Linked DNA regions of Homo sapiens. The protein of the gene in region 5 interacts with the protein of the main gene of each other region in a biochemical or structural test. Each region holds a gene or a part of one and is shown on either strand. Other genes may lie near its edges.

Region 1 (3,430 bases), on a different chromosome or scaffold from region 5:
AAATGTGGCTGGCCAGTCATTGCCAGCTGGACTTGGGTGGGCCTGTTGGGTGAGAGTGTTGGGTCACCCTGAACAGGCAGGTAGGTCTGCCCCCCATCACTATTGGGCATCGGGTGAGCACTGATGAGCATTTTGGACTTAGGAGATATTTTCTCTAACCCTCTAGAAAACCACCACAACTCCAGGAAGGAAACCAAGGGGCAGACCCAAAAAACTGGTAGGTGAAGAAGCAGACTGCTGCTTGCCTCCTGGGCTCTTTTGAGTTGAGGGTGTTGAGTACACAGTACCTGATGCTATGCACCCCCTATGGAAAGGCTCTCCTTGACCTGCTGGGACATCAGATTTTACAGAAGTCCAGAGAGGGGAAGGTACCTGGCCTGGGCTGTGCCCATGAGAAGTGAGGGGTCCCAGGTATAAATCAGACCACATCCCCCTGCCCTGCCCTGCCCTAGTTGTGTGTGGGGGTCCCTCCCTCTCCTGCTCCTAGAATACTCAGAACTTCTAGGGGAGATCTTGGAAGTCATCTAGCCTGTGTCCCCCTCAATTAGAGATGAGGAAAGGAAGCCATAGGGGGAAGGTTTGTCCTTCCTATGAGCCTCTGCAGAAGAGAAACAGCGAAGGAGCTGGGCCCTGGGAGGGGTCGGTGCTGGAGTTCTGATGTGACCCACCACACTGCACTGGAGGGCACCATCCAATTCTGGGTCCCCAAACAGCTGGTGGAAAGGCTCGGTGGGCTGAGTCAAGAAGCTGCCTCTAGGGGGCCACTGCAGTTAGGGTCACCCCAGCCTTCCAGCTCCTGGCCCTCTCCTACCCCCAGCCTGCCCCCTCAAATCCCTGAAGCTGTCATTCCTTGAGCTGAGCCACTGCTGGGGTGGGGGGGTTAGGGGGTGCTGCTGGCCAGGCCCCAAGAGTGAGTAACAGGAAACAAGTTGTTTTGGAGTTTGTGCCTGGCACGGGGGCTGTAGCCCCGTGTGGTGTCCCGACATTCCCGCCCAGTGAGTGAGCCCCGGCGGCACACACTTCCCCTTCCTCCCCACCCCGGCCTAGGGTCAGCCCTCGGCCACCCCGGAGGGCCAGGGCACCACAGCACAGCATCTGCCCCTGTGGGCCAAGGACCTGGTTCCCCTGCACCCACCAGCGGGCTCTTGCACCTTCCAGCCACCCCTTCCCATTTCCTCCCCCAGCCACCTCTTCCCCCACCTCCTCTTCTCCCCTAGGGAGTCAGTCACATCCTGAAGCTCATTGCTGCCCTGAGCTCTGCCCTCCTGCCCTCCCTGGGCCTGGGGGCCAAGGGGGCTTGGCTCCTGGCTCTGGGTGAGAGCAGCATGTGTGTGGGGTTTTTTCCTCCTTTTAAATTCTTTTTATGAATGAAGCCGGGCCGTGGAGGTTGCTGAGTCACCCACACACTCAGCCCTGACTCATCCCTCTTCAGGAGAGCCAGGGAGTGCAGGGAGCGGGTGGGGCCAGCCTCTGGGGGTGGAAGAGGGGGACCGGGCCAGAGCTCACACCAACAACTGCCCACCTCACAGGAGAAGGAGGAAGAGGAGGGCATCTCGCAGGAGTCCTCGGAGGAGGAGCAGTGACCCATGCGTGCCGCCTGCTCCTCACTGGAGGAGCAGCTTCCTTCTGGGACTGGACAGCTTTGCTCCGCTCCCACCGCCCCCACCCCTTCCCCAGGCCCACCATCACCACCGCCTCTGGCCGCCACCCCCATCTTCCACCTGTGCCCTCACCACCACACTACACAGCACACCAGCCGCTGCAGGGCTCCCATGGGCTGAGTGGGGAGCAGTTTTCCCCTGGCCTCAGTTCCCAGCTCCCCCCGCCCACCCACGCATACACACATGCCCTCCTGGACAAGGCTAACATCCCACTTAGCCGCACCCTGCACCTGCTGCGTCCCCACTCCCTTGGTGGTGGGGACATTGCTCTCTGGGCTTTTGGTTTGGGGGCGCCCTCTCTGCTCCTTCACTGTTCCCTCTGGCTTCCCATAGTGGGGCCTGGGAGGGTTCCCCTGGCCTTAAAAGGGGCCCAAGCCCCATCTCATCCTGGCACGCCCTACTCCACTGCCCTGGCAGCAGCAGGTGTGGCCAATGGAGGGGGGTGCTGGCCCCCAGGATTCCCCCAGCCAAACTGTCTTTGTCACCACGTGGGGCTCACTTTTCATCCTTCCCCAACTTCCCTAGTCCCCGTACTAGGTTGGACAGCCCCCTTCGGTTACAGGAAGGCAGGAGGGGTGAGTCCCCTACTCCCTCTTCACTGTGGCCACAGCCCCCTTGCCCTCCGCCTGGGATCTGAGTACATATTGTGGTGATGGAGATGCAGTCACTTATTGTCCAGGTGAGGCCCAAGAGCCCTGTGGCCGCCACCTGAGGTGGGCTGGGGCTGCTCCCCTAACCCTACTTTGCTTCCGCCACTCAGCCATTTCCCCCTCCTCAGATGGGGCACCAATAACAAGGAGCTCACCCTGCCCGCTCCCAACCCCCCTCCTGCTCCTCCCTGCCCCCCAAGGTTCTGGTTCCATTTTTCCTCTGTTCACAAACTACCTCTGGACAGTTGTGTTGTTTTTTGTTCAATGTTCCATTCTTCGACATCCGTCATTGCTGCTGCTACCAGCGCCAAATGTTCATCCTCATTGCCTCCTGTTCTGCCCACGATCCCCTCCCCCAAGATACTCTTTGTGGGGAAGAGGGGCTGGGGCATGGCAGGCTGGGTGACCGACTACCCCAGTCCCAGGGAAGGTGGGGCCCTGCCCCTAGGATGCTGCAGCAGAGTGAGCAAGGGGGCCCAAATCGACCATAAAGGGTGTAGGGGCCACCTCCTCCCCCTGTTCTGTTGGGGAGGGGTAGCCATGATTTGTCCCAGCCTGGGGCTCCCTCTCTGGTTTCCTATTTGCAGTTACTTGAATAAAAAAAATATCCTTTTCTGGACTGGAGTCTCCTGTGGTGTGTGCCCCTAAAGCCTGGGGCAGGTAGGATGGGTGACACTTGTGTTCTGGCCCCCATCCTTCAGGCTGCAGGAAGGGAGGGGAAATAGCACTGGAATCACCTCCGGGGAAGGTCATTTTAAGCCTCTTGATGAAATCAAAACCCCTAGCCACAAAACATTTTATTTACAAAATATATACTGAATACTATACATCTGGCCCCATCACCATGGAAACAACTCCAAAGCCTGCCTGGGGATTTGTGCCCAAGCCCAGCCCAGGAGGGCTAGAGAAAGCAAAGGTGTCTACCAGCCGCCCCCATCCCAGAAGGAAAGCCTCTTCCCATGAGTGCCTGTGGGTGGGCGGTGAGCTCAACACCCACAAAGGGCAGAAGGCCTGGGGGCAGTGAGGTGATGGTGAGGGCATGGGAAGCAGATGCTGCTGAGGGTGGGTGGAGGGAGAAATGGAGACCCAGCACCCAGCAGGGGGAGCCAGGTGACAGCA
Region 2 (3,257 bases), on a different chromosome or scaffold from region 5:
GGCTCACGCCTGTAATCCCAGCACTTTGAGGGGCCGAGGCAGGCGGATCACGAGGTCAGATCGAGACCATCCTGGCTAACACGGTGAAACCCCGTCTCTACTAAAAATACAAAAAAAAATAGCCAGACTTGGTGGCGGGCGCCTGTAGTCCCAGCTACTCGGGAGGCTGAGGTAGGATGGTGTGAACCAGGGAGGCGGGGCTTGCAGTGAGCAGAGATCGCGCCACTGCACTCCAGCCTGGGTGACAGAGCGAGACTCCGTCTCAAAAAATAAAAATAATAAAAAATAATTTGCGGATGTTCAAGTAAGTTCAACTGGCTGGGTGCGGTGGCTCACGCCTGTAATTCCAGCACTCTGGAAGGCCGAGGTGGGGGGATCACTTGAAGTCAAGAGTTTGAGACCAGCCTGGCCAACATGGGGAAACCCGGTCTCTACTAAAAATACAAAAATTAGCTGGGCATGGTGGCGGGTGCCTGTAATCCCAGCTAGCGGGAGGCTGAGGCTGGAGAATGGCTTGAACCCAGGAGGCGGAGGTTGCAGTAAGCCGATATAGCACCACTGCATTCCAGCCTGGCACACAAGAGCAAAACTCCACCTCAAAAAATAAAAAAGACAGGAATCCATATAATCATCAAAGGCTCTTTCAAAAAGGTGAGGGAGGGGCAGCACATCTGCAAGATGAAGTTCTGGAGATTGATGCACAATGAGAATATAGAGCAGTCTTCCTGCAGTACCAATGATTGGTTCCATGACCCCCTTCAAATACCAAAATCCCCAGATGCTTAAACTCCTTATACAAAATGGTAGAGTATTTATACCTAAGATAACCTAGGCACATCCTTAGACTTTCAATCTTCACTGGATTACTTTTAATACCTAATGTACATGCTACATAGCTGTTACAACTGCAGTGTACAAGAAAATAAGTGACAAGAAAATATAGTATTTTGAAAATAAGAAAAATAAGTCTACATGTTCAATACACACACAACCATCCTTTTTGATTATTTTTGACCCAAAGTTGGTTGAATCCACAGATGCAAATCCCTTGGACAGAGGGCTAACTCTGTCACTATAGAAGTGTACACTTAAATGGTTAAGATGACCAATTTATGAGTCAAAAAGGAAGGGGGGGTCAGATACTTGTCAGTGTACGCCCTACATAATTACCTCAAATATTAAGCCCTTACCATGTGCCAAGCAATATAAACACCATGTGCAGCTCAGTCTAATTGAGAAGAAAACCAAATCATCACAGCACCTGCTAAGCCATCTGTGGAGCCAGGGTTATCTCATCAGCCAGGCTGCATCACCAGGAAGCAGCCACCTGATAACAGCTTTCCCTGGAAGTCCCCTCTGTGATCAACCAGCATCTGATTTAACAACAGTCTCATGATTTTCAAGCCAACCTGTCCCTCACTAGTTTTGCCTGAAAAAATAGTGCCGAATTTCTTGTGAAGTACAGACACTGGTAGAAAATACTTCAAAACATTGATAGATAAAATCAGAGACAATTTAAATGTTCTTCACAGTTCTCCAGAACATAATAGCCTGTAGTACCAATGACTGGTTCCATGATCCCCTAAGAGAACACAACTTAGGAATGTGGATTCTAATGATAGCTTTATACTGCTTAGGCAAATTTACTTCTGAGCCTTATGTGCCTTCAGTGGTGCAAGCAAATTTCCTTTACACTTTAGAGAGGTTGATTAACGAGTACATATGTAAAGAACACTTAGAGCACAGCATGACACAAAATATAATGGCCATTTATATTCACTTTCTATGTGCAACGTGGATCGCCTTATGCATAGGAAAAACTCAAACATATCCCTCTTCTAAACCTACAATCCTGAACTACAGGACAACGAATCAAGGTGCTGCCTTGCTTGCTATCAGCCTTCTCTATCACACAAATATTATTTCTCTGGTTGGCTCTGCTTGGGTCTTACTGTTCTGGCCCTTGCAAATACCACAAGTATGGTTAAAACCAAGAAGATATGTAATGCTCCAGAGGCCAACATGCCCCTCAGTCTGAATACTGAACAGTCTAGTCAGACCTTGTGTCTTTGTACAAAATTTTATTAAAGGTCTTTAGAGAGCAACATCCAGACTCCAGAATACAGCTGCCAAGGAGACCCTGAAACCAAATAAAGCACAAAAGTAAGAAACTTTACCAGAGTTATTAAGTTCCTGATTTACCAAATGGATACACACTCCCACTTAGGGTTTGCAGCAACATTAATAAAATGCATACATAAGGGTTTGTCCTTTTTCATATAAAAAAAAAAAATACAAGGCACCTGGAGAGACAACACCTATAAACAAAAAAACCCCAAGTGTTGACCACAGGAGGCTTGTTAGTGTTTTACAGGGGCTGCTAAAGGACAGAATAGCAAAAGTGCCTAGAAAATCTTGAGCAGCCAAGCACAGTGGCTCACCTGAGGTCAGGAGTCTGAGACCAGCCTGGCCAACAAGGTGAAACCCCGTCTCTACTAAAAACACAAAAATTAGCTGGGCTTGGTGGCAGGTGCCTATAATCCCAGCTACTCGGGAGGCTGAGACAGGAGAATTGCTTGAACATGGGAGGCAGAGGTTGCACTGAGCCAAAAATTTTGAGCAAATAAGGGAGGATAAGGGAAAACTATTTCATATACACGAGTAAAAGCAGGAACTTCTTTCTGGAAAGAATAAAGGCAACACCTGTCCCATTGGAACCAAGGGTTAAATAGACCCCAGGTTTCAACTTGTATTCTCCCACATAAAGCAAATAAATGAAATTTTTATTCACCAAACGCTTACCAGAATGTGGGATACAAGTATTAACAGAAAGACTCGGAAGGACCCTATTATGCCCCAAGAGGCCCCTGCCCTTGCAGACATACCTGTTATGCTGTGGGGACTGGCTGGGGCATGGCAGGCGGCTCTGGCTTCCCACCCTTCTGTTCTGAGATGGGGGTGGTGGGCAGTATCTCATCTTTGGGTTCCACAATGCTCACGTGGTCAGGCAGGGGCTTCTTAGGGCCAATCTTACCAGTTGGGTCCCAGGGCAGCATGATCTTCACCTTGATGCCCAGCACACCTAGAGGACACCACAGTTGTTAGCACACAGCTGGGGTCTCAAAGGCCCCCATCACACAAGACCAAAGAGAGCAAGCAGTTTACTCAAGCACCCCTGGGTCTGGACCCTTCTCAGACAAATGCCTCTAAATCGATCAATAAATAGGACACTTCTGCCAAAGGAACTCGTGCACAGC
Region 3 (4,312 bases), on a different chromosome or scaffold from region 5:
ATGTATAATTTTTCATTTTTTAGAAGAAAATAAATACTTTCATGTAATGGCTTGAGACTCTGAATTGCTCCAATTCCTGAAGATTATTTATTAATCATTTAGTCTTTTAATATATTTGAGTGTGGGTTCCCTGGCAGAGGAGGGAGTTCAGAAGAGACCCTGATTTCCCCCCCAAAAGGAAGCCACAAATCTCTTAGAGCCCTAGTGCATTGGGGCAGCCAGGTTTTAATGGCCTTTGGTGGTTATCAGCCCGTCTTGCCTCTGCTCTTTATCTGATAGTGACCCCATGGCCCAACCCTGTTGGGTCCCCTCTCAATGCGGGTGCCCTAAAGAGTCATCGCTGAGTCCATTTAGGCAAAGGGTTAGAATGATTTAAAAGTAAAATGGTCTCCCAAACCCAAATCTAAGTAAACGGAGGGAGGGAAAAAAGAGTCAAGCAAGCCACCACGTTCCTTCGTTCCTTCTCCTCATTTCCACCCCCACTAAAAAACAAAACAAACAAAAAAAACTGCTTTTAGAAAAGTGAGTGGAAAAAGAGGCCAATCTATAGACACAGCCAACTGCAAATTTCGTTTTGTTTTAGAAATCACAATCTAAGTGTGGAAACTGTATAAAGCTTAAAAATAACCGCAACAATACTTTTTTAAAAAGTGAATATTCGTCGTTGTAATAAGATCAAGACCCAGCTGAGGCTTGGAACTATAAAAAGCTTATATTAAATTAATCTCCCTTTAAAGGGGACAATTATTTAAACTTTTTTTTTAGTAGCTTATCTTTACACTTGGAACCACCTGCCTTGATTCGCCCTTTAAACGAACAGGAAATGACCCGCACTGATTTTACTTAGTCGCATCTTTTCAAACCCACCAAAGACAAAACAGAATCTCCACTGCAGAAATTAAATTCCTACTGCTTGCTGCTAGTGTAGTAGGGTGATTGTTTAGAAACGCCTGGGGTTGTTTTCATACCCCTGTTGAAGGTCAAGGTTTTTAAAGGCAGCTCAAAGCTTTGGGGATGATCAGGGGTGAAAAGTGAAGGGAGATCTTTGGAGCCGCCGCGCTGAAGTCTCCGGCTACGCGCCGCCCCCTCCTCTAGCAGGAAAGCGGGCCGCTGGGACCCCTGGCTCTCCGAAAACAGCCTCGTCACCTTTCGCTACCCCTGGCTTAATCTAGGTGAGCTGATGATAGCATTCAGAACGGTTCCGGGAAAAGAAACAGGATTCGATACTTGCGGCTTCTGGCAGGAGCAGGCTAAAAAGCTCAGAGAACTCTTCAGAAAACTTTTGCAAACTTAACTACGCCCGCTGTGGACTTTGGACATGCTAATTCCTATAGGGCGGTTAGAGAAGGGGAAAAAAAATCCCTGACAGTTTCCCTAGTTAGTTTCTTTTCACTGACTTGAAGGCAGAAAAGTCTTACTATTTTATTTCCTGATCCTTTCATCTGAGGAAGACAAAATGGTTTGGGTGTTAATCCAGCGGTAGGGGCAGCAGTAAGTTAGCAGACGGGCTGTCTCTGCCGGGCTGGGTTATAACTTTTCCTACTTTGTATCAAAGCTAAGGCCCCTGCCAGGGAGGTCCCGACCGGCTCCCAGTGGATATCTTTGGGGACACCCTGATGTTTTCAGCCCTCCTGGGAGGCCGCCCCAGAAAGCTGAGACGAGTGCCTCCCGAGGGTCGCCACGGCAACACAGCATCCCCCACATCCCAAGCTAGGAAGACCGACCCGGGGCTGCGGGGGCCCCTTTCCAGAATCCGGCCCCGCCCGCCTGGCCGCTGCCCTCGCGGATCTCCCCCGGCCTCGCCGGCCTCCGCCTGTCCTCCCACCACCCTCTCCGGGCCAGTACCTTGAAAGCGATGGGCAGGGTCTTGTTGCAGCGCCAGTGCGTAGGCAGCACGGAGCAGAGGAAGTTGGGGCTGTCGGTGCGCACCAGCTCGCCCGGGTGGTCGGCCAGCACCTCCACCATGCTGCGGTCGCCGCTCCTCAGCTTGCCGGCCAGGGCAGCGCCGGCGTCCGGGGCGCCCAGCGGCAACGCCTCGCTCATCTTGCCTGGGCTCAGCGCGGTGGAAGGCGGCGTGAAGCGGCGGCTCGTGCTGGCATCTACGGGGATACGCATCACAACAAGCCGATTGAGTTAGGACCCTGCAAACAGCTCCTACCAGACGGCGACAGGGGCGCGGATCTTCAGCAAGCAGCTCCCGGGAGACCAACATACACGTTCAGGGGCCTTTATTACTGCGGGGGGTGGGGGGGGGCGGGGGTGGTTAGGGGAGGAGGGAGACTAAGTTACTAACAGTCCAGGAGGGGAAAACGTTCTGGTTCTGCGGATCGGCCTCTGACCCAGGATGGGCTCCTAGCAACCGATTGCTTAGTGCATTAAAAAGTGGAGACTATCTTCCACGAATCTTGCTTGCAGAGGTTAAGTTCTGTCTTTGGCTGTTAGAAAAGTTCCTGAAGGCAAAATTCTCATACACTTCCTAAAATATTTATGCGAAGAGTAAAACGATCAGCAAACACATTATTTGGAAGTTCCAGTAGTTAATGCCTGTCAGTTTTTTGCAGGTGAGTTTTGTCTAAAGTCCCAACAGAACACAATTATCTCCCGTAACAAGGCCACTTTTATCATGCAAAACTGGCTTCAGTCCCGAAAAGCAAGAGCTGAGACTTCCAAAGGTAGTGCTACTAATGTATGTGCACGTATATATAAATATATACATATGCTCTACTTCATAAAATATTTACAATACAATCTGTGGAGAATTTAAACACAACAGAAATCCATTAATGTACGCTGCAGATTTTTTTAAGTAGCCTTGAAAATCAGCTTCAGTAGTTGGAGCAGTGCTGAGCTAGAAGTACTTGTCATGTTCTCTGTTCTCTCAATGAATTCTGTCAAAACGCTCAGTGCAGAAAATTCAGCGTTTCAGAGATCTTCAGCTAATCTTAAAACAACAATCATAAGAAGGCCCAGTCGATGACACTCAGGGTTCTACAGCTCTCCCACATCTGTGAACTCGGGTTTGGGGATGTTGGTTAAGTTTGTGGCTGGTCCTCTGGTTTGTTGGGAGTTGAGCAGCCGCAGAGTCACACACATGCAAACACGCACTCTTCGGAAGGCAGCCACTGTCTACATCAGCTGGGTGACTCAGCCCTGACTCGGGCAGCAGCGAGACGATACTCCTCCACCGTCGCCCAGCACCCGCCGGTTAGCTGCTCCGAGGCACGAACACCCACGAGCGCCGCGTAACCGCAGCAGGTGGAGCGGGCCTTGAGGGAGGGCTCCGCGGCGCAGATCGAAACAGATCGGGCGGCTCGGGTTACACACGCACGCACATCCTGCCACGCACACTGCCACGCACACGCAACTTCACGGCTCGCCTCGGACCACAGAGCACTTTCTCCCCCTGTTGTAAAAGGAAAACAATTGGGGAAAAGTTCGCAGCCAGGAAAGAAGTTGAAAACATCCAGCCAAGAAGCCAGTTAATTCAAAAGGAAGAAAGGGGAAAAACAAAAAAAAACAACAAAAAAAGGAAGGTCCAACGCAGGCCAAGGAGAAGCAGCAGAGGTTGACTTCCTTCTGGCGTCCCTAGGAGCCCCGGAAAGAAGTGCCTGGCGGCGCAGGGCCGGGCAGCGTGGTGCCCTGGCTGGGTCCGGCCGCGGGGCGCCCGTCCCGCCCGCGCCCGCTGGCTCTATGAATGAGAGTGCCTGGAAATGAACGTGCTTTTACTGTAAGCCCGGCCGGAGGAATTCCATTCCCTCAGCTCGTTTGCATAGGGGCGGCCGGCGGCCAATCACAGGCCTTTCCGGTATCAGCCAGGGCGCGGCTCGCCGCCGCCGGCTCCTGGAATTGGCCCGCGCGCCCCCGCCGCCGCGCCGCGCGCTACTGTACGCAGCCCGGGCGGGGAGTCGGAGGCCACCCCCGCGCCCCGCATCCAAGCCTGCATGCTGGCCCGGGGCCCCGCCCGCGTGCGGACCCCTTTCCGCAGCCACACGCAGGCTTGTGCGGCTCCGCGAGTGGCCACGGTCCGGAGACCTGGAAAAAGAAAGCAGGCCCCGCCGGCCCGAGGAGGACCCGGCCGGCGCGCCGCACCCGGAGAGGCCCGGCCCCGCGAGCCGCTGCAGGCAGGCGCAGTGGCCGCCACGAGGCTCCCGAACCGGGCTGCAGCCCGCGGACGGCCCCAGATCCTGCGCGGCCGCCCAGGGCCAGGCCTCCGCTTCCAGGGCGGGGGTGCGATTTGGCCGCGGGGCCCGGGGGAGCCACTCCGCGCTCCTGCACCGTCCGGCTGGCAGCTGCGGCGAAGCGGCGCTGATTC
Region 4 (4,682 bases), on a different chromosome or scaffold from region 5:
GGAGCCGTGCGCATCGCGGACGCAGCCTGGTCGCGTGGCCGGGGGCCGGGCTCCAGCAGCCAATCGGAGCTAGGGGGGCTCGCTTAAAAAGGCGGGGAGGCGGGCCTAGGACGGGTGGGCGGGGCCTGGCGGGATCCGCCAGGGACCGAGAGGCTTGACTTGTAAGTTGAGACTGCCGAAGTCCGGATGGCAGAGGGGAGGGAAGGGGGCGGAGGAAGTCGCGTCAGGGCCAAGCCCACCAGACTCCCCACCGCATTCCCACGTACTCACCTCTCGGCCGGAAATGGGGTACCCTCTGGACCCCAAAGGCAGAAGCCTAGAAGCCGGCTAAGGCACGTTCCGCAGCCTCCGGGACTAAGGATTCCTGGCTTCTGTCCAGCTCCTGAACCCTCCCCCGCCATTCTCAGGTGCAAACGCCCCAGATGTCCCCACTGCCTGCCCGCCTAACCGCTCCGCATTCATTCTCCAGTCTTCAAAGTGAGGAAAAATACACCGCTCAGTTTCTCCCTTTTCCAATTTATTTTAAAGTTTTAAAATTACAAAGACAGCAAAATTTTCCCGGCACAAGTAACACTTGTTTAAAAAAGGGGGTGGGGGGGGGACGCGCAAGTGCGCGATTTTTCTATTTTATTAAAAATAAGAGAAAGACAACTGTACAGGTTTTTTCTCCCAGCTCCCGGGTGTGAAACTAAGTACTAGCCCTAGATATGTATATATACACAAACACACACATGCACACAGATCTAGCTCTGTAAAACTACTTAGCAAATCCCAAATCGACTGCAGTAAGTCTTACTATCCACTGCCCGCCCACTCCCCCTCCCCCTCCCGCAGCTACAACTACTTATAATAAAGGACTCAAAAAGAGATCGGGAGGTTTTAAGTGGCCGCAGCCCCACCAAACCAAGCAAAGACACCTCTTGTACAGGAGGAACAAAAATCCAGAGGAAAAGAAAAGTCTTCCTAGGACACAATCCATCGATTGCGTGGAAAAACCTAAGTTTCAACAGGGCACACTGAGGCACTTGGCTGACTCCCCACCCTTCCCCTGAAGTTTTCACTCCGGTTTAACAAGAGAATTTGCTGAAGCCACAAAGATCCCCCAATGGCTACATCCTAGCTGACTGGGAGAAACTATGGCTTCTCCCATCCAGCTGTCACTTGGACCCCACTCCCCTTCCCTAAGAAAATAGGGAGGCCGAAAGCGCAAACTAACAAAAATGAGAAGGAAACTGGGTTTGGGCCCCCACTGCTCACCACTGGGAGGTGGAAGTCAGCCCGGTGGCGGTTTTTTTCCCCCTCCTTCCTTTGCCGGCTGGCTGCTCCCTACCACCTCTCTCCTGCTGGCCAAAGGTTCTGAAACTCTCACAACGGGTGCCCAACTCAAAGAAAACTCACTCACCCTAAAGATATTCCTGCTAACCTCACAATTCCTGGGTTCCCTCTCATCTAGCCAGAACAAACTGCCTTGTGTCTTCTCCCCACCCACATCTACCTTCATGGCAAACAAGCCAACAAAACACACAAGCCCCCCCCGCAAATCCCTAACCCCGTAAGTAGGTTAATAGCAAAACAAAATATAAGTACATTCTCATCATTAGATTGGTTGTTGCTGTCCTTGCACAACTGGTTAAGGAAAAATGAATTATTCTGTAATTTCTGAAGAATCCAAATCCTGTCTCTTATAAAGTCAGAACAGAAGGGGGCAAAAGGTGGTGGTGAGCATCAAGAGAGAAAAAAGGAGAAAATTATTTACAGAAAATAGGAGACAGGAGGGAGTGTCCGCAAGAAAAGACTTCATTGTCACTTCTTCTTGCCGGCCCTCTTGGCACTGGACTTTGCTTTGGGTTTCACTGGTTTGGCCTTTTTGGGCTTGGATGCCTTGACCGGCTTGGCTTTGACAGTCTTGGGTTTTTTGGCTTTCTTGGGCGTGGCAGCCAGCTTCTTCTTGGCCTTCTTGACCGGGGTGGCTTTGGGTTTCTTGGTTGGGGCTTTGGAGGCAGCCTTCTTGGGCTTGGATGCCTTCTTTGGCGTGGCTACCTTCTTGATTTCCTTCTTGGTCTTCTTGAAGGCCACTGACTTCTTGGGTTCGTCGCTCTTGGCTAGCCGGAAGGACCCCGAGGCCCCCACCCCTTTGGTCTGCTTGAGGACACCGGTGGTGACCAGGCGCTTGATGGACAACTTGATCTGCGAGTCAGCGTTCTCACCCACCTTGTAGTGGCTCTTGATATACTTCTGAATGGACTGGCGCGAGGAGCCAGCGCGGTTCTTCTCGGCCTGGATGGCAGCCACGATCATGTCTGAATACTTGGGGTGGTCTGTGGACTTCTTGGAGGCCTTGGCCCGCTTGGGCTTGGCCGCAGGGGCGGACGTGGAATTCTCGGTCATGGTGGCCTGTCTGGTCCGGCTGTTGAAGGCGCCTTCCAAAGGGCCAGCCCTCGTCGGAGGCTGAGCAAAGCCTGCCTCGGGATCTGCTCCTGAGCCCCTGACTACCGGGCCAGTCTGGAGTGCGGCTCCCGGGGATGCGAGCGAGGAGTCGCTGCTTTTCCTCCCCGGCTCGGGTGTCGGGAGAGCTCGCCGAGCCGGCTTTGCGAGGCCCAGCCCCGCCGGTCTGTCGCTTGGTCTCGGCACCGGGCTCGGGCTCTGCCTCTGCCTCTGCCTCTGCCTCCGCCTCCTCTGCCTCCCTTTTCCCAGCTCCGCGTCTGGCGCTTGGGCGGCGCATCCGGGTATTTAGCGGCGGCGGGCGGACCGCGGTGAGGACAGGGCTGCTGGCTGCCTGCTCCCGGCCCGGAATGGCGCTGCGCCGCCGCCATCTGTGTTTCTTCCGCCGAGCAAATCCGACCTTTCCCCCCGGCCCGGGCCTTCCTGCTCCCCGCCGCCGCCCTGGGCCGCTGCCTGGCTCCCTGGGCTTCCCCGCCGGGCGGCCCGCTGGCCCGGCCGCCGCCCCCCGCGCCCGCCACGCACCCCAAACGGCGCCGAGGACCGCTGGTGTGCCGGCACATTTCCCCTTTGCGGGGGGCTGGCTCTGCGGGGCTAGGGAGCCTCGGTGCGGGAAACCCCCCGTAGCAAAGCTCTCCCCTGAGGCTACCGGGGGCTCTGCTCCCGGCCCGCTGCGGGGTCCCCTAGCCCGGTGGAGCTGCCGGAAAGCGGCCCCAACTAACACACGCGGCCCCGAGCTGGGCGACTCCCAGCCGGGCCGAGCCGGGACAGGGGGGAGGGGTCGCTCCCCCGGGGTCCGGTCACCTCTCGGGGGTCACCCCGCCACCGGTCCCTCCACACCTCTACCCCCTCTGTCCATGGGGCCCCCAAGGAAACTTTCCCTGAAAGAGTTGGAAGGGTACTTTCAAACTTTGTCCCTTCCCCCTCCTCTGCCGTCTCTCCCCCAGCGCGCCCCCCGACCTCTGCCTTGAGGTTCCCTCCTGAGGCCGAACCCCCAGTGCTGCCCGGACCCTCTGAGAGATGAGGAGGGCCTCCCGGGTGGCCTCTTCTCCTCAAAGACCCCTACATCTCCCATATACCCTAATCGGGAATTCATTTGTGTGCTTCTCTTAGCCTGGAAGTTTTGGGGTGTCAGAGACAGAACTCGCTGCCCCCCATCCGTGAGGCCCAGCCTGGGGGTTCAGTCCCCGTCCCAAGGCTCCTTGAAGGCAATGTGGGGGCGGGGGAGGGCGGTCCACAATGGAGAAGCTGCCCCAGAAGCTCTAACCAGGGACGGTCCGGGGGGCCCCTGTAATGAGGAGAGGCCCTGAGTGCTTTGGGGACTTGGGAAAGCGGGGCGCTAGGGTAGAGGTCGAGGAGGGGGTTATGTCCCTTGGGTTGTGACCTGTCCTCGGAAAGTGTGGAGTTGTTTAGAGAGCCGTGGCCGCGACCACCGCCATTTTGCTGGGAAGATGCGATGTCTTTGTTAAAATGCACACAGATTTTCCCGTGCTGCTTGGCAGGTGTAGACGAGGCGGACACGGGGCGCCACTGTCTGTAGGGAGTTCTGAAGCTCGAGGGGCTTTAGGGGCCCAGAGGCCAGCAGGAGAGACCTCAGAGACCCTAGGACCCCTTGTCTGCGGCCGACCTCCTACTCACGTGCCGGGTCCGCTTGGCAGCGGCCCTGGGCTGAGATTCTGCGACGTTTGCTCCCTGGGCCCCTCTCCCACAACCCCGCTTTTATTCCCTAAGCATAGAGGCCGGTCACTGTTCACTTAAACAATACCCTGGGAGTGGGAGTTTGTTGCTGGTCAAAATGATGAACGCATCCCGGTATGGTCCAAGAGCTGTTTGCAGACACAGTGGGCTACTGGGGAGGGGTAAAGGGGAGGGGTTCGAGGGTTTTGATGTTGGGGACGGGATCGTAGCTGCGTGGGTGTGGGAGGGCTCCTACTGGACCTGGGAGTCTCTGAAGCCAGGACAAATTAATGGGTTTCCCCCGCACGCCAAGGGATGGATTAATCCAAATGATTAGGGGAGGAAGGGGGAGGGGGAGCGCAAGACTCGGTGTCAGATGCCTTCTCTCTGGGCTTATCTCCGTGGCACAGGCGGGGAAGGGAAGCAATGGGGGGTCAGGTTAGTTCAAAAGGTCAAGGTTCGTCTTTTGATGGTGTCAATTTCTCTTAAGTTTCGTCATTTGAAAACACAACATTCTGGTGGCTTTGTTTTGGTTATTTTCAAAGACAACTCGGGTTCCCATTAAG
Region 5 (4,110 bases):
CAGTCTCCTGTATGTTTGGAGTTCTATCATCTTAAAGAAAAATATATTTATACTTTAAGAAGGTCTCTTTTTATGCCAAACTAAAACCAACACAAATTCTCTGGGAATTTAAGAAACACACTACACAGCATTAGACATACTAATCACATATTTTTAATTCAGCAGCAAAATTTGTTTAGTAGAATGGGTATGAGGTATTTAAGTGATTTAAAAAAAAAATATATATATATATGTATACACACACACACCTCCAATCGAACACCACACTAACTTGTCACTCCTATTCCACTAAATTCCCTCCAGTATTCCCCCTTGTTTTTCACTATTTCTTGTCAAGTGGGGTCTTTGATCACATTAAAAATATAGTTGGGAATTTTCTTCTGGCAGAACCTATATAAACTGGATTCTATTAGCAAATTATTTTGTACCTGGAGAATCGAGAATGTTCTGCTGGAGTCGAGGAACAGGCGAAGGGATATACCCCTCATTTGTGCCATATATAGATCTAAACATTCCTTCAAGTACCACAGAAAGGGAAGGATTATATACATAAGTTATAATTTTAGAATAGCTTAAACATGTCTATATGACAGGTCATTTATACTTAGGGTAACTAAATAGAAATTTTATTTAAATTAGATTAAGTCAATTATTGTAACCAGTCTATAAAGTCTGGATAAAAATATTTATCATCCTAAAAACAATTGAAAGAGACTAAAACTAAAAATATATTATGAAGTTAGCATAATTCTGCAGCCCTAACCTCTGCCCCTCAACACACATGCAAGTTATCAATAGTGTCTTCAAAATACAAGTACTACTATAAGTGTTTAGTATCAGAAGACTGTAAGACTATGGGGGTGAGGCGAACGGTCATTAGGGATTCGGTAATTTCAATTCTCTTGAAATGTGAGCAAATTTGCGTTTATTAAGTAAAGAACATATGTTAATGCACACTGGTACTACAAGACAACTTAATGGTTGAATTTTAATAAATATTTAAATGTGTTCATATTACAGAAGTTGTAGCATTGTTAAATCATTCCATAAAATTTATTTTACTAAAACCACTCACCTTCTCCAATTTTCTCTATTTTGGTATAATCTTCCATAGTTAGTCAATGGGTATGGTAGATCCTAAAGTGAAGGAAAAACTGACTTAATTACATGCCACTAACTCGAGTAGTTTTAAGCATTAATGAAACACTATATGTAAAGCATTTTCCACAGTGCCTACTGCAGCATAAGTATTCCATAAATATTAATTACATTCAAACAATATTTACAAGGGTAAGGACTCCTACAATAACTTTCCATCCTTCTTGACTCCTGAGACATTGGAAACGTGTATATTCTATACTAGTGTAGTATTTAGCTTCTTCCAATCAAAATAACCCTCAAATTCAGGTATCAACTTGTCTATTCTTTCCAAACAAAAACCAGAATTATGTTCCCTTTTTGTGACACTTTAAAGTAGTACCTGCGTGTGCCAAAGTTATACCCAAATATTTCAACAAATTTATACCGCTTTATGATACTCCTAATTTTATTCAAAACATTATTTTTTAAAGTTATGAGGACAGAACTAAAATGTGTTCAGACTGTTCATTAGGAAAATTTTGTTTAAAACGACAAAAACATTTTAAGTGTTTACAGTTGCCCACGTGACAATTTTAATCTTTTTCCTCTGCTTGCTGAGGTCACAGACAAACATGCTCAAGACTTTCAAGGTACTTTTTCCAAGAGTAGGAAATATCACTTAAGCACCGTAAAACAAAAGAATGAAAAGTGCAATTCCACAGATAAAATTCTAATTATAACCTAAACAATGTCAAGGACTAAGCAGAAAAACGGTATACTTGAATCACAATGAATGGGTTAAAAAAAAAAGCTGACAACCAGAAGTTCAAGACTTCCTCTGAAGTTTGCCAATGAAACGTCAGAACTCCAGGCATAATTACCTAGATTTTTCTAACACCCATCACTGATGATAAAATCATTTATAAAGCACACTCAGAATAGACCTTTAAGTTCTATTTCTCACATTCATCTTCAAAGAAAAATCAATCCAGAAAGAAGCAGAGATGTATCTTTTTAAATGAAAAAAACTGCACTACACTGCTCATGAGAGTTAAGTGCCTGGGCTGACTGTTCTTAACAGCTCCAGGTGGGCCGGGGCCGTGGGCAGAGCAAGCCCAAGAAGGCCCACGAGTTCCAGGATCGGTTTCTCAGGGCGGCCTGGCTCTAGGGACCCGCGCCTGTACCTGGCCCAGGTGCGGTCCCACTTTCCCACCCCCGAGGCGGGATGGCAGGGCGCGCAGGGGCCGGGCCCAGGAAAGAGCCTGCTACTCCGCAGGCGCTCAGCGTGGGGGAGCGGATTTTGCTTCAATCAAGACCCGAAAGCCTCTTCAGGCAGTTCCTGAGAACAGCCGACCTCGACTCATGACTGCAGCCCCGAACCCCCACCCCCACGCCGCCTAACCCCGCCAGGCTGGGCTCCCATAGCCTCCCTCTAAAGCCAGCCCAGTGTGGCTCACACGGCCAGACCCAGGCGAAGGCCCTGCCCACCGCCCCCCGAGGCCCAGCCGGGCCCCGCGCAGATCCCTGACCTCCAGTCCGGCCTTCTTAGAGGACCCCGTTCCTCAATACTCGCCCTCCGAGGCCCTCGGCCGTCCCCTAGACACGACCCTGACCCCAGCCACTGTACCCGGCTTATTATTCCGCGGCGGCCGCAGCGGCAGCTACAACAACCGCGTCGCTCTCCGCTCAATTTCCAAGAGCCAGCTTTGAAGCCAAGTGCGAGCAGTTTCAAACTCACCGCGCTAAAGGGCCCCGGATTCACCAATCGGGTAGCCCGTAGACTTTCAAAGCAGCCAATCAGAGCCCAGCTACGCTGGGCAGGCCTTCCCGGGTGGCTAGAGCGCGAAAGAAAGAGGAAAGGGCGGCTAGAGAAAAAGCAGGAGGGCGGGCGCCAACTGAGTGCGAGCGCAAGCGCTCTCCTCCAGTCGGGAGAGTGTCGTCCTACTGTTTCTAGTCAGCGGAGCAGGAAGCTACTGTTCGCTCCGTTCTTCTTTTAAATTTTTTCTCCCAGCATTGGCACAGTTCAAATTTATTATACTCAAAATAGCTCATCAAAAAAGTGATATTGTGTTTACATCGAGATTCCATTACTTTCACTTCTAATACTTAGGGTTAGGAGTGTATAGTTATGTTTTTCTAAATGCGTGATTTGCGGGCTGGCTCCAAGGAGCACATTTCAGTGACCTTAAGAAGGAAATGGAAAACTCAAAAGACCGCCTCAAAAATGTAAAGGAAAATTTATTATTTATATCGCTGTGCTTTGTTTCTACCTCATTTTTGAATTTAATATTAAATTATTTTATTATTTACATTTTGTTTATTATACAATTAAAAACATTTGAAATGTATTAAATTTTAAAATATTTTCACATCAGAATTTTAAATATATAGAGAGAGGCATGCATTTAGAGACTGGGTCTCATTATGTTGCGCATGCTGGCCTCCAAATCCTGGGCTCAAGCAATCGGCCTCAGCCTCCAGCGCAGCTGCGACTACAGGCACTCGCCACCACGCCTGGCTTAAATATAATTAAAACACAAAAATTCACAATTCTATGAGGGGAGAGAAAGAGGCTTAAATTATGCTTTAAATAATCCAGTGTCAAAAACTCTGTCTTCATTGCCATCCATCATATCCTTGAGAGAGATTTCTGCACTTACTGCAGTTAATTTTTTTTTCCTTTTTCTTGTTCTTTCCTTCTTTCTCTCTTTCTTTCTTACTTTTTTTTTTTCTGTTTGTTTGCGGAGACAATGTCTCCTTATGTTGCCCTAGCTGGTCTCCAACTCCTAGGCTCCAGCAATCCTCCTGCCTTGGCCTCCCAAAGTGCTGAGATTACAGGCGTGAGCCACCAGCCCAACCTAAACACCATTCTAAAATCTTTTTAAAATAAACAAATAGAACAGTAAAACAGAGCTAGACATAATAAAAATCCATTTTAAGGATTTCTGGTTGCATTGATCCTAATGGGACATAGAACAAAGACTGATTACCACATCCACTACAAGTATGTATTAGAAGACCCAAATCAGG
Region 6 (4,312 bases), on a different chromosome or scaffold from region 5:
GCATCTCAAAATCATGATTAAAGTATAGTTTTGGCTTATTAAAGTGTTATATATGTCTTCTGATATTAAAATTTGTTTTAATTATCCAAGTAATCCTGAATCCATTCTCATGGGAAGAAAGATACTTAAGTCAATATTAAAATACTGAAATATGTGAAGAGTTAAAGGTGAAAGTCATTCTGTACAGTTCTACAAAATTCTGTTTCTCTGTTCAGAGCTACTGCTTATAGTTTAGTGTTTAATCTTGCACACCTTTTGCATGCATAAACCTTTACAACAATTTGTTTTACTTTTTTAAAAAAATAAATGGGGCTCTATTTTACAATGTGTCAATATATTAATTTTTTTTCATGGTTACAATTTTGTAATGGTTCTCTTAATGATGGATAATTGTTTTCAGGGGTTTTTTTGCTATGATTTAAAAAATTTTACAGTGAATACTGTTGAGCTACATCTCTGGATATTACTATCGATTATATGGTCAGTGCACTTGTGGCTTTATGAATATTTTAAATAATGTAGTCAAGTCTGTTGATCTTTTTCCTTGTCATCTGTGTTTTGTGGATTTTGGTATTTCCAAACTATATTCATTTCTACAGAGTTATTTTCATTTCCATTTTTTGAACTGTCACTTGTAAAACACTTTCTTTTTATAGAACCTTATGAGTGATAGCAAGATGTATTAGTATGTAATACATTGTGATGGAGTGTAATGATCACAAGGATCAGTGACAGTTTTGATGACCAATTTCAGAGTTATAAAATAAATGAAATATATTCTGGAAAAGTCATGGGCTTTTTGTGTTGTTTGTGGAATCACTAAAGGTAGTCCCTCACTATTAACAAATTTGTTTTGACACATAATATGTGAGGCACTGAATTATAATAGGCACTAGAAACATTGCCTATTTTCCTGAATCCTTTAGACAGGATTGCTTCCCCAGTTACCAGAGATTTCTCTAACCTTGATTTACAGTAGCTACTGCTGGTAGGAATTGCTCTCCACTCCACTTTTGCTGCCATCCAGTGTTACATTACCCTACAAATATACTAAGTGCTTAGCAAAGCAGAGTCCAAATGTAAGATCAATTTTTGTCTTACCCAGAATTTTACAATTAAAATATATAAATAAAAGATTTCTCTGTGTGTGGATGTATGTGTACAGTATAGTGTTGCATGCTATACATGGGGTGAGGTATCAGAATGCTTTTTCAGTGTTTGGCACCTCTAATTTGGCTCTGTGGCCATTTATTCCACCTTTCTACCTTGAAATTCCACAACTTGGGCTCTTGAAATTACCTGGTATGGTGCAATGCACGTGTATTCTCAGCTACTCCAGAGGCTGAGGCGGGAGGATCACTTGAGCCCAGGAGTTTGAGGTTGAGATTGAGATGAACTGTGAGAACATGCTACTGCACTCCAGTCTGGGCAACAGAGCAAGACCTCATCTCTAAAAAATTTTGGGCTTGAAACGGGCTGATTTTGTCCTACCACTAGTAATCACTTTTAGAAGTAGCTTACAATTGCTGTTTCTTCCTTCTTATGGGGGGAAATACCCTTATAGGAGGTATTATGAAGCCAATATCTAATAAACTCTGTCATCATTAGCTCACTTCCACTCTTCTGCCATCTCTCTGTACCTGATTAGTATAGTTTTGAAAAATTATAATTTTGCTACCACTGCACCTCTCCTTGTTAGTAGGGGAGATTTATGTAAGAGAAGAATCTTTTATTTCTAGACAAGGTAATATCCCATTGGGAAGAAACAGCCAAGGGAGAAGAAATGTTTTTTTCTTCTTTGAAGGGACTAGAACTTTTATAGCTCAGCAAATTTGAATAAGTTTGATGGTAATTCAGCTACATTATATTTTAGCTAGATTTCTGAGTTCATTTGGTAACCTAACCACCACATATATACCTATTTATAACTTGAAATTTGCCTTTAAAGTCACGAAAGCACAAAGCACTGTGGTGCTTGTAACACTCTTCCATATTATTATAGGTAACTAAATGACCATGGAATCTGGAGCCGAGAACCAGCAGAGTGGAGATGCAGCTGTAACAGAAGCTGAAAACCAACAAATGACAGTTCAAGCCCAGCCACAGATTGCCACATTAGCCCAGGTATAAAATACATGGAGAGATTCCAGTTTGTGTCTCTTCCTAGAGGAATACGTTTCCAAGAGAATTTAGTTGTTATTACATAGATATACATAGAATGAGCAGAGATACTCTTACAATATCAAAATTCCTATTTACTTAGTATTAGAGTATATTTAGAAATGATAGTATTAATTCAATAACAGTAAAATGTATTATTAAACAATAATACAGTATTTTTAGTGAAATGATCCAGAAATAATTACATTTTAAACTTATGGGTAAATGGTGCTCTCAGATAAGGGAAGAAAACCTTGGCTATGTATGACAACTGCTTTTTTTATTTTTTTAATATGACACAGATTTATTTTTTAACAGTGGGAATGCAGATAATATGAAAGCCTAAGTTTATATAACTAAACTAAAAATTAGGATAAGCAAATAAATTGACATGTAAGGAAATTTTAAGGATGATAGCAGTTTTTGTTTCCTGTATATTTTAAATATAATTTCTGATTCTTTCATTTCATCTTTCTCTTTAACATCCTATCTTTAAGAATATTTTCTCTCATTCTTATGTTTTTGTTTGCATGCATTCTCCTCAACTATTTTATTAACAGCTGTTTACATAGATAGGAATGAGAAAGGTGGTTAACTTAAAAAACAAATAGCAGATACAGACCTGCTAGGTAATAGTGTGATACCGTCTCTTTCAGATGAAGGTTCCCAGGAGAATATAATCCTAGCAGAAGCTCTGATATATGTAGCTTCAGTTTCTCCAAGAGTTTAAAAGTTCCTAGAGAAGTCACCTAGCAAGAATGAATCATGGGAAATAGAGGACTCACCACACTTGGGTGTCTGGCTGAGGTAGTGTGAGCCAGATACTGGATTTCCAGCAAGAATATAGTCAGAAGGAGTGAGCTGTTCTGTGTTTTCTCCTAAGACCACCAGGGTTTACCTCCAGCCTTCAGGAATAAGACAAAGCCAAATACATCTAATGTACTCATACGAGGCAGGCTGCAGGATTGAAGGGGAGAGAGCCAGGACTTCCATCAATATAGGGTCAACAGATAAGAATCTGGGCTCATCTGTATATTTTGCCCTTTAGAAAGAGGAAGACACAATGCTAGGCCGGGCGCTGTGGCTCACGCCTATAATCCAAACACTTTAGGAGGCTGAGGCGAGCGAATCACTTGAGGTCAGGAGTTCAAGACGAGCCTGGCCAACATGGTGAAACCCCATCTCTACTAAAAATACAAAAATTAACCAGGCGTGGTAGCACACACCTGTAAATCCAGCGACCTTAGAAGGCTGAGGGAGGAGAATTGCTTAAGTCCGGGAGGCAGAGGTTGCAGTGAACTGAGATTGCGCCACTGCATTCCAGCCGGGGTGACAGAACAAGATTCCCTCTCAAAAAAAAAAAGAAGATGCAATGCCAGCAGGCTTCTTTATGATGATAGCCCTTAACACATCTTATCTCTGGAGTCACACTATTTTGTCCAGTCTGGTTGTCCCCAGAGTAGGCTGTATTGTGTCATCCTGGGAATTCCTTTCTCCCTACTTCCATTTTCTCACAGTTTGTGTTTTTGATATGGTAAAGCATGTTTTTCAGTGGTTTTATGAGAAAGAAAGGTTGGCTGAGTAAAGATAGCATGTTATAAAAATTGAATGTATGGGCCGGGTGTGATGGCTCACACCTATAATCCCCACACTTTGGGAGGCCGAGGCAGGCGGATCACGAGGTTAGGAGATTGAGACCATCCTGGCTAACACAGTGAAGCCCGTCTCTACTAAAAATACAAAAAAATTAGCTGGGTGTGGTTATGGGCTCCTGTAGTCCCAGCTACTCGGGAGGCTGAGGCAGGAGAATGTCATGAACCCGAGACCGCACCACTGCACTCCAGCCTGGGTGACAGAGCGAGACTCCATCTCAAAAAGTAAATAAATACAAATAAAAATTGAATGTACATGTGCCTTAACATCTAGAAGATGTACAACAAAAATATTAAAAGTGATTAGCTATGGGTGATAGGAATATAAAGGGTTTTTATTTTATTTTTTATATCTGTATTTTATAAATTTATAATGAGAGGAGCCATTATATAAAATTATTAGTGTAGAAAAGGGATTATTCATTGAGTTAGCTAGGTATATTTTCCCTAGAGAAGACTCAGGAAAGAGAACATAGTAATTGCTTCAAATATTACAAGAG
Region 7 (4,312 bases), on a different chromosome or scaffold from region 5:
GTTAATTTTTGTACTTTTAGTAGAGATGGGGTTTCACCATGTTGGCCAGGCTGGTCTTGTACTCCTGACCTCAGGTGATCCGCCCGCCTTGGCCTCCCAAAGTGCTGGGATTACAGGCGTGAGCCACCGTACCCGGATGAAGATCTGTCTTAAAAAAAAAAAAAGGCCGGGCGCCCCCATGGCTCATGCCTGTAATCCCAGCACTTTGGGAGGCCAAGGCAGGCGGATCACAAGGTCAGGAGATCGAGACCACCCTGGCTAACACGGTGAAACCCCGTCTCTACTAAAAATACAAAAAATTAGCTGGGCGAGGTGGCGGGCACCTGTAGTCCCAGCTACTAGGGAGGCTGAGGCAGGAGAATGGCGTGAACCCAGGGGGCGGAGCCTGCAGTGAGCCAAGATTGTGCCACTGCACTCCAGCCTGGGCAACAGAGCAAGACTCCATCTCAAAACAAAAAAATAAATAAATAAATTTTTTTGGCCAGGTGCAGTGGCTCACGTCTGTAATCCCAGCACTTTGGGAGGCCGAGGTGGGCAGATCACACAGTCAGGAGATGAAGACCATCCTGGCTAACAAGGTGAAACCCTGTCTCTATTAAAAATAGAAAAACTTAGCCGGGCGTGGTGGCACACGCCTGTAGTCCCAGCTACTCGGGAGACTGAGGCAGAATTGCTTGAACCCAGGAGGTGGAGGTTGCAGTGAGCCAAGAATGTGCCACTGCACTCCAGCCTGGGAAACACAGACTGACTTTGTCTCAGAAAAAAAAAAAATTTTTTTTTTTTTCATTTTCTCTTTTTATGGCCAGTAAAATATTCCCACATAATTTTTAAATTTTTGTAGAGATCGGCTCTCGCTTTCTTGCTGAGGCTGGTCTCAAACTCCTGGGCTGAAGTGATCCTCCTATCTTGGCCTCCCAAAGTGCTGGGATTATATGCATCCAGCTCTGAGTCTTAAATCCTAAAAAAAAAAATTAACCTTTGCCGGGCATGGTGGCTCACGCTGGTAATCCCAGCACTTTAGGAGGCCGAGGCGGGCAGATCACGAGGTCAGGAGATCGAGACCATCCTGGGTAACACAGTGAAACCCTGTCTCTACTAAAAATAAAAAAAGATAGCTGGGTGTGGTGACAGGTGCCTGTAGTCCCAGCTACTCGGGAGGCTGAGGCAGGAGAATGGCGTGAACCCAGGAGGTGGAGTTTGCAGTGAGCCAAGATTGCGCCACTGCACTCCAGCCTGGGCAACAGAGTCAGACTCGGTCTCAAAAAAAAAAAAAATTAATCTTCTTCCTCTTATCTCCAAATCTATTAATTTTTCTTTATATTTGTAAGAAACTGGCTGGGTCAACTCACCTTCCTTCACTGTCTTTACAGTAGGGGCAGGTGCATGCTTCCCGCCGGGTCCTCCGACCGGCTTGGGGTTGGGCATCTGGGCTGTTTTCTCCTTCCTCTCCACCTGCTGTGTCATCATGTATTCCATCACCACCAGCCCCATGGAGACCAAGCTGAGCTCCATGATCACCTGAAATTAAGAGAGAAAAGGGTCAACATGTGACATGGGCAGGTTATCACTGGCATCTCAGTGATACCCTACAGTCACAACATCATTTCTTTTGAACTGACATCCTACATTCACAGTATCACAAGTTTTGAAGCCTTTTTATGTTTAGCCATTCCATTCACTGACACCTGAAGACTCACTGAAATCTCAAGAATCATCATTGAAAATACCAAGAGTGGCTGGGCGCAGTGGTTCACGCCTGTAATTCCATCACTTTGGGAGGCCGAGGTGGGCGGATCACCTGAGGTCAGGAGTTCAAGACCAGTCTGACCAATACGGAGAAATCCCGTCTCTACTAAAAATACAAAATTAGCTGGGAATGGTACGCATGCCTGTAATCCCAGCTCCTTGGAAGGCTGAGCCAGGAGAATTGCTTGAACCCGGGAGGCGGAGGTTGCAGTTAGCGAGACTGCACCATTGTACTCCAGCCTGGGTGACAGAGCAAGACTCTGTCTCAAAAAAAAAAAAAAAAAAAAAAAAGAAAGAAAATACCAAGAGCCAATAAATACGTAAAAATCTGATCAAATCTCATAGTTGTTTTTTTTTATTATTATACTTTAAGTTTTACGGTACATGTGCACAACGTGTAGGTTACATATGTATACATGTGCCATACTGATGTGCTGCACCCATTAACTCGTCATTTAGCATTAGGTATATCTCCTAATGCTATCCCTCCCCCGATCATAGTTTTTAAAATGCAACTCCACTTATAACGCATTTGTAATTTTTCACCTATCAGATTACCAAAAGTTGAAACCCTAATAACATACGGCATTGGTAAGGGTACAGGAAAACAGACCCTCCCTCTCTCTCTTCCTTCCCTCCCTCCCTCCTTCCCTCCTTCCTTCTCTCTCTCTCTCTTTTCTTTCCTTTCTTTTTTTGAGACAGAGTCTCGCTGGCTCTGGAGTACAGTGGCATTATCTGGGCTCACTGCAACCTCCATCTCCTGGGTTCAAGTGATTCTCCTGCCTTAGCCTCCCAAGTAGCTGCAACTACAGGTATATGCCACCATGACTGGCTAACTTTTTTGTATTTTTAGGAGAGATGGGGTTTCACCATGTTGGTCAGGCTGTCTCGAACTCCTGACCTTAGGTGATCCACCCGCCTCGGCCTTCGAAAGTGCTGGGATTACGGGTGGGCATGAGCCACCATGTCCAGCCGGAAAGAGACATTTTCATACACAAATAGTGATAAATTAATACAACTTTTTGAAGGCCAGTTTGAAAATATTTAAATGTACATCTAATTTGAACCAGCAATGCCCATATATTTACATGTGGTTCTGCCTGTAACCTCAGCACTTTGGAAGGCTGAGGCAGGAGAACTGCTTGAGATTAGGAGTTCAAGACCAGCCTGGGCAACATAGGGACACTCTGTCTATAAAATAAATAATAGGCTGGGCATGGTAGCTCACGCCTGTAATCCCAGCACTTTGGGAGGCCGAGGTGGTTGGATCACTTGAGGTCAGGAGTTCAATACCAGCCTGGCCAACATGGTAAAACCCCCATCTCTACTAAAAATACAAAAACAAAACAAAAAAAATCAGCTGGGTATGGTGGAGTACGCTTGTAATCCTAGCTATTCGGGAGGCTGAGACAGGAATTGCTTGAACCCAGGAGGCAGAGGTTGCAGTGAGCCGAGACTGTGCCACTGCACTCCAGCCTGGCCGACAGAGCGAGACTTCGTCGCCAAATAATAATAATAATTAGCTGGGCATGGTGGCATGCGCCTATGGTCCCAGCTACTCAGGAGGCTAAGGTGGGAGGAAGATTGCTTGAGCCAAGGTGTTTAAGGCTACAGTGAGCTATGATCACATCACTGCACACCAGCCTGGCCAACAGAACAAGATTCCAACTCAAAAAAATATATATAAATAAACAGTGTATGCTAAAATGCTTTAGACTCTCATCATGACTCAGTTGGTCACATTTGACATTTTCAAACACAGCTCTAGGCCACTGGTAAAAAGTGACAGATAATATTCTTTTTTTTTTTTTTTTGAGACTGAGTTACACTCTTGTTGCCCAGGCTGGAGTGCAATGGCACAATCTTGACTCATTGCAACCTCCGCCTCCTGGGTTCAAGCGATTTTCCTGCCTCAGCCTCCTGAGTAGCTGGGATTACAGGCACCCACCACCACCCCTGGCTACTTTTTGTATTTTGTTGTATTTTTTTAGTAGAGATGGGGTTTCACCATCTTCGACAGGCTGGTCTCGAACTCCTGACCTTGTGATCCGCCCGCCTTGGCCTCCCAAAGTGCTGATTACAGGCGTGAGTCACCGCACCCGGCTGATAATATTCTTCGCAAAAGTAATATCTTATAAAGTGGCAGATAATATTCTTCTCAAGACTTCTTTCCTTTTTTTTTTTTTGAGACGGAGTCTCGCTCTGTCGCCCAGGCTGAAGTGCAGTAGCGCGATCTCGGCTCACTGCAAGCTCCGCCTCCCAGGTTCACGCCATTCTCCTGCCTCAGCCTCCCTAGTAGGTGGGACTACAGGCGCCCGTCACCACGCCCGGCTAACTTTTTGTATTTTTAGTAGAGACGGGGTTTCACTGTGTTAGCCAGGATGGTCTTGGTCTCCTGACCTCATGATCCGCCCGCCTCGGCCTCCCAAAGTGCTGGGATTACAGGCGTGAGCCACCGTGCCCGGCCTTTCCTTTTTTTAAGGAGACCGGGTCTCACCATGTTGTCCAGGCTGATCTCGAGCTCCTGGGCTCAAGTGATCCTCCCGCCTCAGCCCCCCAAAATGTT

What was found.
Region 1: of the proteins of CDK1 (region 5) and HMGA1, one has a biochemical effect on the other in vitro, tested with the Homo sapiens proteins (3 studies listed by BioGRID and IntAct).
Region 2: of the proteins of CDK1 (region 5) and RPS3, one has a biochemical effect on the other in vitro, tested with the Homo sapiens proteins (2 studies listed by BioGRID, with this or other methods).
Region 3: of the proteins of CDK1 (region 5) and RUNX1, one has a biochemical effect on the other in vitro, tested with the Homo sapiens proteins (2 studies listed by BioGRID).
Region 4: of the proteins of CDK1 (region 5) and H1-0, one has a biochemical effect on the other in vitro, tested with the Homo sapiens proteins (3 studies listed by BioGRID).
Region 6: of the proteins of CDK1 (region 5) and CREB1, one has a biochemical effect on the other in vitro, tested with the Homo sapiens proteins (2 studies listed by BioGRID).
Region 7: of the proteins of CDK1 (region 5) and SP1, one has a biochemical effect on the other in vitro, tested with the Homo sapiens proteins (2 studies listed by BioGRID).

The regions. Positions count from the first base shown.
Region 1 is NC_000006.12:34,243,302-34,246,731, forward strand, and holds the end of HMGA1 (high mobility group protein HMG-I/HMG-Y), read left to right. Parts: intron 1-166; coding exon 167-217; intron 218-1,529; coding exon 1,530-1,583; 3' UTR 1,584-2,930; downstream 2,931-3,430. UniProt on the Homo sapiens protein: HMG-I/Y bind preferentially to the minor groove of A+T rich regions in double-stranded DNA. It is suggested that these proteins could function in nucleosome phasing and in the 3'-end processing of mRNA transcripts.
Region 2 is NC_000011.10:75,404,497-75,407,753, reverse strand, and holds the end of RPS3 (small ribosomal subunit protein uS3), read right to left. Parts: exon of another isoform or gene 3,188-3,257; intron 3,083-3,187; coding exon 2,889-3,082; 3' UTR 2,886-2,888; intron 2,172-2,885; exon of another isoform or gene 2,141-2,171; 3' UTR 847-2,140; downstream 1-846. UniProt on the Homo sapiens protein: Component of the small ribosomal subunit. The ribosome is a large ribonucleoprotein complex responsible for the synthesis of proteins in the cell. Has endonuclease activity and plays a role in repair of damaged DNA.
Region 3 is NC_000021.9:34,884,998-34,889,309, forward strand, and holds part of RUNX1 (runt-related transcription factor 1), read right to left. Parts: coding exon of another isoform or gene 3,809-4,312; exon of another isoform or gene 2,116-3,808; coding exon of another isoform or gene 2,100-2,115; coding exon 1,846-2,099; intron 56-1,845; exon of another isoform or gene 1-55.
Region 4 is NC_000022.11:37,803,251-37,807,932, reverse strand, and holds H1-0 (histone H1.0), read right to left. Parts: upstream 2,705-4,682; 5' UTR 2,389-2,704; coding exon 1,804-2,388; 3' UTR 501-1,803; downstream 1-500. UniProt on the Homo sapiens protein: Histones H1 are necessary for the condensation of nucleosome chains into higher-order structures. The histones H1.0 are found in cells that are in terminal stages of differentiation or that have low rates of cell division.
Region 5 is NC_000010.11:60,777,168-60,781,277, reverse strand, and holds the start of CDK1 (cyclin-dependent kinase 1), read right to left. Parts: upstream 2,801-4,110; 5' UTR 2,708-2,800; exon of another isoform or gene 2,610-2,707; intron 1,138-2,609; 5' UTR 1,113-1,137; coding exon 1,076-1,112; intron 1-1,075. UniProt on the Homo sapiens protein: Plays a key role in the control of the eukaryotic cell cycle by modulating the centrosome cycle as well as mitotic onset; promotes G2-M transition via association with multiple interphase cyclins.
Region 6 is NC_000002.12:207,553,626-207,557,937, forward strand, and holds part of CREB1 (cyclic AMP-responsive element-binding protein 1), read left to right. Parts: intron 1-2,002; 5' UTR 2,003-2,010; coding exon 2,011-2,124; intron 2,125-4,312.
Region 7 is NC_000012.12:53,403,791-53,408,102, reverse strand, and holds part of SP1 (transcription factor Sp1), read right to left. Parts: intron 1,519-4,312; coding exon 1,350-1,518; intron 1-1,349. UniProt on the Homo sapiens protein: Transcription factor that can activate or repress transcription in response to physiological and pathological stimuli.